Linked DNA regions of Homo sapiens: region 2 is linked to region 1. The links come from fine-mapping of genetic effects on gene expression. A gene starts in region 1. The other region holds a variant in brackets. All regions are shown on one strand. Distances are from middle to middle. Region 1 holds the start of C2orf80 (chromosome 2 open reading frame 80). Region 2 overlaps C2orf80 (chromosome 2 open reading frame 80).

The links. PIP is the estimated chance that this variant, and not a neighbour inherited with it, causes the effect.
Region 2: its variant is the best candidate, but not a certain one, in a credible set for the expression of C2orf80 in caudate (GTEx, PIP 0.63).

What each region holds. Positions count from the first base shown.
Region 1 is chr2:208,186,843-208,192,230 of GRCh38, forward strand. It overlaps C2orf80 (chromosome 2 open reading frame 80), which reads right to left and starts at 3,188. Exons shown (of 9, transcript NM_001099334.3): 1 at 3,111-3,188; 2 at 104-219. The coding sequence starts at 144.
Region 2 is chr2:208,164,093-208,169,480 of GRCh38, forward strand. It overlaps C2orf80 (chromosome 2 open reading frame 80), which reads right to left. Exons shown (of 9, transcript NM_001099334.3): 9 at 1,255-1,723. The coding sequence ends at 1,715. Among named protein-coding and RNA genes, the nearest start is that of CRYGA, 3.2 kb to the left of the region's middle. The variant G/A (reference allele first, on the strand shown) is at 3,345.

The DNA of each region.
Region 1 (5,388 bases):
GATTCTTAGATTTTTACCCACTGCCAATACCCAAGCCATCTATGACATGAAATCCACCGAATGCCAAGTGTCATAAATGAAAGTTATTCTCAGTCATACTTACAAGAGCTTTTTCATTTCCTTCTTTATGAGCCTTCTTTCCATGTTAAAGGCTTAGCCAGCTGAGCAGGTATCTGCAGCTAACACTACACTTAGACCCAGCTTCTCTGAGTCTAGAGGCTACAGCAGCAAATCAGAGAGAATATGAGTTAGGGATGCTATCACTCCAAATACCAGTCATGGAGTCCTAGGCTCTGGAAGGGATCTGAGGGAGCACCTCATTCAGGCCTCTTACTCGGCAGGTTCAGGGTCAAAAAGCCACCTGGAGGCTCATGCACTGTACTTTTGTGTTTATTTGACACCTTTTATTCCTTCCAAATTTTTCCAACACTTATTTACTTAATTTACTCTTCCTTGCAATAATCTAGCAAGTAAAACCAAAATGGTTTGTGTAATAGCTGATGAGACTATTCGGGCAGAACCATCCAAACTAGATGGATGTGATCCATCTAGATCTGAATGTGTTTGGGTTTTTCTGTGAGCATTCAACTCCCAGTGAGTTCACCCTGGCTCAGTGGCTCATAATGGAGTTTTCCATAGAATCCATCTACACTCTCCTATTGCCAGGAGATCCTTGAAAGAAAATATGGTTATGGGAAATATGTCTTCAATTCCCACCCCCACATTGAACCAGAAATTGAAGATCAGGTGATGGGGTCAAAAGGAGTCTGAAGTCACCAAAAAGGAGTCTATAGAAAATCATCACTATTGAATGGGGTACACAGGGAGAGGTATAAATAGGGTATCAACTCTATTTGTGATGTTTTATTTATTTTTAAATTTATTTTATGGTTGGGCCTCTATGATCAAATAGTTGTTCAAACTTTATCCCGGATGTTTCTGGTGTTTTTTTTTTAATGAGATTATCATTTAAATCAGTGGACTTTGAAAGCAGATTGCCCTCTATCTGAGTGAGCCTTTTCCAATCAGTCGAAAGCCTTGATAGAACAAAAGACTGACCTCCCCCATGCAAGAAGGAATCTGCCAGTAGGCAGCCTTTGGATTCAAACTGCAACTCTTCCCTGAGTCTGCTGGCAGCTGGCCTCCTCTATCAGATTTTGGACTGGCCAAGACTCCACAATCATGTGAGCCAATTCTGTAAAATCAAAATATTTGAAAGAGATGGTTAAGCCTATACTGCACCGTGTGTGTGTGTGTGTGTGTGTGTGTGTGTGTGTGTGTGTGTATCCACACACATCCTGTCAGTTCAATTTCTCTGAGGAACCCTAATACTCAAATATAACAAAATGTTAATAGTTGTTGACTCTGGAATTCTAAGTCCATGGATGTTCATTATACTACCCTTTGTACTTTTAAAATTGTACGTATATTTAAATCACTACTCTAAAGATGATTGGAAAACAAACTTTAGAAACGGTTTTTTGAAAATGGTACCATATAAACACTAAGCTTCACTTGATTCAGCTCTACCAACAGTAAGCAGAGAGCCAACAGGATGGCGCTGATCTAAATGAATGCTTCCCTAGGCCACCTTCATTATTTTGGATTTTTTTTTTTTTTTTGAGACGGAGTCTCGGTCTGTCACCAGGCTGGAGTGCAGTGGCACAATTTCGGTTCACTGCAACCTCTGCCTCCTGGGTTCAAGTGATTCTCCTGCCTCAGCCTCCCAAGTAGCTGGGACTACAGGTGCACGCCACCAAGCCCAGCTAATTGTTTTGTACTTTTAGTAGAGACCGGGTGGTGTCATCATATTGGCCAGGATGGTCTCCATCTCCTGACCTTGTAATCCACCTGCCTCAGCCTCCCAAAGTGCTGGGATTACAGGCGTGAGCCACCGTGCCCAGCCATTTTGGATCATTCTTGCTGCTGCTACATCTGCTTTAGTTTTTGGGGAGTGGACGGGATGTGGATAAGATGAAAGTGGGGAAGAAAGTAAGAGCATTTCACAGGAAATTGATTAAGTATCAAGACAATAATATTGCTCCCTACAGAGTCAATGGGGAGAGGATGCAGCAAGCCATAGAGGTGGCCCTATTGCCTAGAGAAGAGAGAGCACTGGACCCAGGAAAGCCACACTCATTGATGTGGCTGTGCGTCTTCTGCTTCCCAGCCTCAGGTGTTATCCGAAAAAGATGGGCCTGGTTAACATTGCCAAGAGCACTTCTTACCCTAACATTCTGTAACTCTATAAAGTCTGGCATGCATTAAAATTCTTCTGATTCAATAGTTTGGAAAAACATTTGTTGCTAGACTATTTGGCCTATCTCAATTCCTTGGCAGGGAGTAAGGCACAGTTAGCATGTGCTTTAATCCATTCTTGTCTTGTAATTCTGAGAAAGCCCTTTGAGTTTCAGATTTACAAGTTATAATATTTGCATTGCTTCGTTGTTATGACAGCTTCGTCTTAGATCATCCCTCATCCTCCCCATCCCCTGCCCCCACCACCACCATTCAATATGGTATAATATGCAAAGGTTTCAGTCTTTAAAATATGAGTATGTCCCACTCCCAAACCACTAAACTGTAGGTCAGAAGACCCTGTGAGGCCACCAACTAGCTGTGCACCTTGAACAAATTAATTTGCCTATGTTTTTTCATTTCTTCCTCTGTAAAACAAGCGTTGAATGATTGGAGAGGTCCCTTACAGCTGTGGAAGTCAGTGATTTATATGCATTTAGTAGCTACGCCTGGTCTAAAGAAGGCCATTTGCATGGATTCTAATTCAGCTAGATTTGAATTCTGCCAGTTATCCCTCTTCTCTGTCTATAGAGCTCTAAAGAAAACAAGACCGCTGTGTGTTTTGTGTGTGGCTGAAAGCACACACAAAAGAGGTACTGGAAAGATGTCAGCTGTCTCAGGCTTTAGCTGTTTCATAGAAACAATTCCCTAGAAGTCAGAGCCCCCAAATTCTATAGGAATATCATTTCCTGGAGAATATCTGCACATTCCATGCAGGTTCCCTGCTGCACACCTGCAATCGTGGTACAGGTCTCTCGGGCTGTTCTATTAAGTGCCTGCTCTTAACAAATTCCCCTTTGAGAATCGCTCACCAACCGGAGACCGGTTCCAGTGCTTTTGTTCTTTCTCTGCTTCTGGAGGCATGCTGAAGCATCCGCGCATCTCAGACTGGTGCTCACAGACATCAGGAACACATGCTTTTTCCTGGTTGCTAGGAAACAGTGAATGAATTAAAATCATTTGTTTTAAAAATACACTCCCCTACGCCCACCCCCATTAAGGGTTGAGGGAGGGTGGAAAGTCATATATTTGGGACAGGATTGTGATCCTGGCCTGAAGTTCACGTGTCTTTTTACCTGAGTAGGCTTATGTTTCCCATCTAAATGATTAATTGAAAAACCAAGAGGATGGGAGGAGTTTACCTTCCCCAGAGTTTTTTATAGCATTTGGCTGCAGACATAGGAATCAATTGACTAAGCAAGGATTGCTGGGGAAGCTAGTGAAACTCTGGCTCCTACATAGTTAGGGTGCCCCAAAGTACCCAATGACCCAAAGATCATTCTACTCGATGAATGTCAATACAAAACAGTGGCAATCCTGAAGAAACATCACCTGGGTTCAAGCTAGCACCATCTTTCTAATTATAGATGAGATCCCTTTCATGTGCGTCTGTGTGAAGAGACCACCAAACAGGCTTTGTGTGAGCAACATGGCTGTTTATTTCAACTGGGTGCAGGCGGGCTGAGTCCGAAAAGAGAGTCAGCAAAGGGTGGTGGATTATCATTAGTTCTTATAGGTTTTGGGATAGGCGGTGGAGTTAGGAGCAATGTTTTGTGGGCAGGGGGTGGATCTCACAAACTACATGCTCAAGGGTGGGGAGAATTACAAAGAACCTTCTTAAAGGTGGGGGAGATTACAAAGTACCTGCTTAAGCGGGGGGAGATTACAAAGCACATTGATCAGTTAGGGTGGGGAAGAAACAAATCACAATGGTGGAATGTCATCACTTAAGACTATTTTTACTTCTTTTGTGGATCTTCAGTTACTTTAGGCCATCTGGATGTATATGTGCAAGTCACAGGGGATGTGATGGCTTGGCTTGGGCTCAGAGGCCTGACAATCCCTGCCCACACGCCTGCCTCCTAGTCTTAAACACTTGCTCCCTTGCTTAAAGCTTGTTAATGGTTTCTGTCTGTGTCTCCTCTATACCACTAGACTAGGGGCAGAGTTTGTTCTTCTGGCCCATCTACGGCTGGGTGTCTGTTATTGACACCTCTTAATCTTTATTTCCACTCCTTTCCACTGGCCAAGTAAGTCACTTGATTACCTGAGGTCATATTATGAAAGACACTAACAAAACCCTAGATATAGAATTTTCTAAACTAGTTGTTCACTCCATATTGAGTTTATATTGTACCTAGACACTTCCGGGTTTGGTGAGCCTGAAGTTTATACATTATGGGGACCGTCTTTAATAAAAAGAATGCAGAATTGTAAATATGAAACTAATACAAAATTGTATGTTTATTTAGAACTATTAATTACAAGTTACAAATTTTAAAGAGCTGAAAAATACCACAAACAAAAAATCAGTATTAATATTTTCATGATTACTAACTGCCTAACATACACTAAAATTCCTTTTTTTCTTACATACTCTTTGATTATCTGTTAATAGGACCAAGGTTTCATAGTATTTTCTATAGAGAGAATTAAAAAATAATTCAGTCTCTCCTCTACTATGACTGTTTACTTTTATTTATTTATTTATTTATTCATTTTTTTGAGATGGAGTTTTGCTCTTGTTGCCCAGGCTGGAGTGCAATGGTGTGATCTTGGCTCACCACAACCTCCGCCTCCCGGATTCAAGCGATTCTCCTGCCTCAGCCTCTGGAGTAGCTGGGATTACAGGCATGCGCCACCACGCCCGGCTAACTTTGTATTTTTAGTAGAGACAGGGTTTCTCCATGTTGATGAGGCTGGTCTTGAACTCCCGACCTCAGGTGATCTGCCCGCCTCGGCCTCCCAAAGTGCTGGGATTACAGGCGTGAGCCACCGCACCCAGACAATTTTTTATTTTTTAATTAATTTTTTTTTTTGTAGCAATGAGGTCTCACTATGTTGCCCTGGCTGGTCTCAAACTCCTGGGCTCAAATGATCCATCTGCCTTGGCCTCCCAAAGTGCTGGGATGACAGGCATAAGCCACCACGCCCAGCCATTTTCAATTTATTCTAATATTTTGTTTATAATTAAAACTAAACTGTAGGCTGGGTGTGGTAGCTCATGCCTGTCATCCCAGCACTTTAGGAAGCTGAGGTGGGTAGATTGCCTGAGCCTAAGAGTTCAAGATCAGACTGAGCAACATGGCA
Region 2 (5,388 bases), 23 kb before region 1:
TGTAGGGAAAACATAAGATTAGAAGTGTGTACTATACCAACATATCAATCATGGTAATCAATGAATGGCAAGATTATAGATCTTAGCTTTATGTTGTTATATTTTGTTTTTTGCTGCTGTTTTCTTAATTTTCTATTATATCTGCCATCTTCAGCCAGACAGAAAAAAAAATTCGATTATAAATATAACAATTTCATGAGATGAAAAAATAATAAAATCAATCTTTAAATGTATGACTTTGAGGTGCTGGTGAAAAGCAGTAAATACTGGAAGCAGGTATATTTAATCAAGAGATTAAACACTTCTTGAGCTAAAAATAAAAAGAAACCCTGAGAATCTGTGAGAGGCTCGAAGAGCAGAAAAATACACAGGAACATTTCACTCCCCTCCCCCTGCCACCCTCCTTCTAGCATTGCTTTTATTTTTTAAAATTAGCGTGATGATTTGCCTGTGTTTTTCCTTTCAATAGTATCACTGTTTCATTGAACCCAAGTGACTGCCTAACAGCCTTCTCCATTGCTGCCAACTTATTGATTTAGAAGTACTCCTCAGATGTGCAAGTGTGGAGGAAGACTCCAAACCCCAGACTGTCTTTTGTCATTCCACATGTATGTAGGAAGATGAAATCAAACACCTTTGTGCTTTAGACCCACCGAGGGATTCTAAAAGAGTATTTGACCACAGCTAGCAACACATTCACAATGTCATTTGTGAAAATCCTCAGGCAGCATGTAAGGCAAACGCGCAGGTGGTAAAAGGAGAGACAGCAGTAGCTACCGAGAAAAAAATGTTTCCTCATAACTAGCAGAGCTAGGCAAAAGAAAACTGGGTGAAGTCCTATGAAGCTAAACACCTAGCAGTGCATGCAGGGACCGCAAGTTGCTGATTCCCTCCTTTGCCTCCCCCTAATTAGCTGCAGGCTTACTGGTAAATCTTAGAACCATAATCAAACCCAGTGTGGAAAACGCTGCATTGGTCTCCCAGCCCCACATGAGAATATACCACCATTTTCAGAAAAAGTCTACAATCTCCATCTGTGTTTTTGTACATGCTGATGAAAACTGTTCTGTAGACAGATGGCACACCAAAACCTTAAGAAATGTATTATGTGTACTGACATTCATGTGATCAAGTTGTTATTACATACATTGATAGGCTAAGCCATGTGCCTAATCAGCATTTTGGAAAGGTACTAAAAGACCAGAACATCTTCCCTCCTAGTAGTCATTATAGTCTACTGAGAGAAAGCCTGTATTCATTTTTTTAATGCTTTATTGAAATGATTTAAACATTCTTTTCATATGAGAACACAGTAAAGGCAATCAATGACAGATTAATTTTATTTTGGATTAACTCTTTGGAAATCTGCCTCCCACTCCATCACTGTGCAATATTCAATGCCACACATTTGTAAAATGTGCTACAAAGCCAGCTTGCTCTAACACAGAAATACTATATACTTTCTGAATTCTCCAGCAGTCTTCCAGTCACAATGAAGTAGCATAAGGTCACAGTTTTTTTTTTTAAGAAAATGTAGCCATGCAATATGCTTCTAAAAGAAGAAAGCTCAACATCAAAAATAACACTTCAGTGCAGTTGTACCAAAAACAGTTGTAAAGAAAAATGTACTGGCAAGAGCTGTGGTTTTAAGATGATGCTTCTCGTCTGCTCCCAGAGAATCTATTATGAAGTTCCATGGTACAATTCCAATTTTCTAAGTGACCTGCAGAATAAAAGATGATTTTGGTATCAAGCACATCAATTTAACATGGACACAGACATTACTTTAAGTCTATAGGAAGTTAAGGTCAAATATCAGATACTAACTTACTGACAAAGATAGATTAGATTAATGTAATTACAAAGGAATTTTCATGGAATTATTCTGATATATTTGGAAATTGAGTTATATTTCCCAACTAAATGCAATATGTGATCCCATACTGGATCTTATACAGAAGGAAAAAAATGCTTAAAAAGAACATTATTGGGTCAATTGACAAAATTGGTGTATAGAGAGTACATTAAATAAAAGTACCAATAATAGATATTCTGAAGTTGATAACTATTCTATGGTTATTTAAGAGAATTACTTTGTTCTTAAGAAATACACACAGAGGTACATAGAGTAAAGTGGTAGAGTATATATACATAACTTCTAATGGCTCAGAAAAAAATTATATATCTTTATCTATATACAGAGAGACAAAGACAGAATATAATAAAGCTAACAGAACAAAACATTAACCATTCGTGACTGTATAAAAGGAATACGTGGGTTCTTTGTATATTATTCTTGCAAATTTTCTCTAAGTTTGAAATTATTTTTACATTAAAAAGTTATACTTCTCTTAACCAATCCTACCCAAAGCAAATCAGTTTTTGGCCTTTTAGCAGTTATGTATTATGCTTGTAGGATATTATTTTGAATTTCTGATGTATTGCTTTGGATTTAAATTTAAATTGTCCTCTCTCTATGTCTCATTTCCTTTCATGATAGCATGAATTTCTCATGAGTGGTGATGAAGAGAGCGATTATATTATTGCTTGCCACTGTCCTGACACTTTTTTTTTTTGAGACGGTGTCTCACTCTGTCACCCAGGCTGGAGTGCATGCAGTGGCGGGATCTCGGCTCACTGCAAGCTCCGCCTCCTGGGTTCATGCCATTCTCCTGCCTCAGCCTCCAAGTAGCTGGGACTACAGGCGCCACCACGCCCAACTAATTTTTTCTATTTTTTAGTAGAGATGGGGTTTCACCATGTTAGCCAGGATGGTCTTGATCTCCTGACCTCGTGATCCGCCCGCCTCGGCTTCCCAAAGTGCTGGGATTACAGGCGTGAGCCACCATGCCTGGCCTGTCCTGACACTTTTCTAAGCCTTTACACATATAACTTATTTAATGCTTATAACAACCCTATGAGGTAGGTACTATTATGACTTTTTAAAGAGATGAAAAACTAAAAGCACAGAGAGATTAGGTAACTCACTCAAGTTATTAAGTGGGTAGCCTGGATTCAAGAAGTATGCTGTATTCTAGCTCTTTAGTATGGTCGTGTTCATTCCAAATTTACTTCCTAGTAATGTGCCCACTACTGACGCTTTCCTAGGACAATGCAATTTAAAAAAAAAATCTTTAAAACTGTTTCCTAGCCGGGCGCGGTGGCTCATGCCTGTAATTCCAGCACTTTGGGAGGCTGAGGTGGGTGGATCACGAGGTCAGGAGTTCAAGACCAGGCTGACCAACATGGTGAAACCTCATCTTTACTAAAAATACAAAAATTAGCCAGGTGTGGTGGTGCACACCTGTAATCCCAGCTACTCAGGAGACTGAGACAGGAGAATC[G/A]CTTAAACCCGGGAAGCAGAGGTTGCAGTGAGCCGAGATAACACCACTGCACTCCAGCCTGGGCAACAAAGCAAGACTCTGTCTCAAAAAAAACAAAAAACAAACAAACAAAAAACTGTTTCCCAGAACACTGAGGGTTTTGTTTGTTTGTTTGTTCTGAGACAGAGTCTCGCTCTGTTGCCCAGGCTGGAGTGCGCTGGTGCAATCTCGGCTTAGTACAACCTCTGCCTCCTGGGTTCAAGCAATTCTCATGCCTCAGTCTCCCTAGTAGCTGGGATTATAGGCGTGCACCACCACACCCAGCTAATTTTTGTATTTTTAGTAGAGATGGGGTTTGCCATGTTGTTCAGGCTGGTCTTGAATGCCTGACCTCAAGTAATCTGCTCTCCTTGGCCTCCCAAAGTGCTGGAATTATAGGCATGAGCCATCGTGCCTGGCTGTGATTTTTTTTTTTTTAATAATTTCCTCTTTTCTCTTACTCTATGAAGAAATTCGGTGGCTGGAAATAAATAAAAAATTCTGAATAAGGCATTGTTTTATCTTGAGGTTAAAAAAATTGTTCTTCAGCTAAAAGACATATAATATCTGCAAGCCAAAAAGGAAAAACAGTAAGCTCAAATATTTAAAATGAAAATCTTCTTCAAATACCAAGCTGTGAAAGCATGTTTTTCATCCATTTAATAAAATACTTATTCCTTTAATATAGAAAGAATTCTAACAAACCAGTGAGACATACATATATGTATGTTTATATGTATATGTGTAGCAAATAATTAAATACCATAAGAAATATTAACAGTGGTTATTTCTGAAAAGTGGGACAGGGGTGTGAAGAAGAGGGAGTTCTTTTGCTTTTCATTTTATATTTTTTGTCTGGCTTGAAAATTTTACTTATAAGTGTGTACACTATTAAAATTTTTAAAACTAGTTTAAAAGATACATTACCCAAGAGTTGGGCCGGGCGCGGTGGCTCAAGCCTGTAATCCCAGCGCTTTGGGAGGCCAAGGCGGGCAGATCGCGAGGTCAGGAGATCGAGACCACGGTGAAACCCCGTCTCTACTAAAAATACAAAAAATTAGCCGGGCGTGGTGGCGGGCGCCTGTAGTCCCAGCTACTCGGGAGGCTGAGGCAGGAGAATGGCGTGAACCCGGGAGGCGGAGCTTGCAGTGAGCCAAGATTGCGCCACTGCACTCCAGCCTGGGCGACAGAGCAAGACTCCGTCTCAAAAAAAAAAAAAAAAAAGAGTTGGAAAAAATGCCTAAAGTGCACAAATAATAAAGTGTGAAAGAAAAAACACAAACGAGTTTTCTGTCGCTTGATTATTAAGAAAGGGCTTTTCTGGAAGGGATTCATCTCAGGACCTGGGGCCCTACTAAAACATGGGCATTTGTTCTTTCGACACTCCTGGGCTCGCAAGCATCAATCAGCCTATAGAAAGGTCTGGTCCCCAGAACTGAGCCTTTGATCACTATAGACAGGGCACAGAGATTTGAGAACCGTCACCTAAGGACTATTCGCTTACTACCTACTGCCAATTCACTAAATAAAAATTGTTACTGAATCTCTGCTGCCTGCGAAGTACTTTATATACATGTGAGAAATACTAAGGAAATAAAAGATATGCTTCCATCAAGAATCAAAAAATCTTCATTGGTTGTGGAAGAAAATATATATGGAACAAAATTATATTTAAAAATAAGATACCAATGAGTAATCTTTAGAGGTAGGTTTTCCTTACATAGGGTCCATTGATGAGGCTTGCGGGGGGTGTCTATAAACCCCTGTTTCAGAGATCTTTTTGTGTGTGTGTGTGATTAAGTTTAAAGTCTAGATTGTGTGTGTGTGTGTGTGTGTGTGTGATTTTTGGAGTTGTTACTGTTTTTTCATTGTTGTTTTGTTTTGCTCTCTAAAACTTGCTGCTTCCAAACACGTATAAAAAATGACCTCATTTTTCAAATTCTTCAAAAAATTCTTCAGAAACAAAGATATGGTTCTAGAAAGTCTAATACCTTCGGCCGGGCACAGTGGCTCACGCCTGTAATCC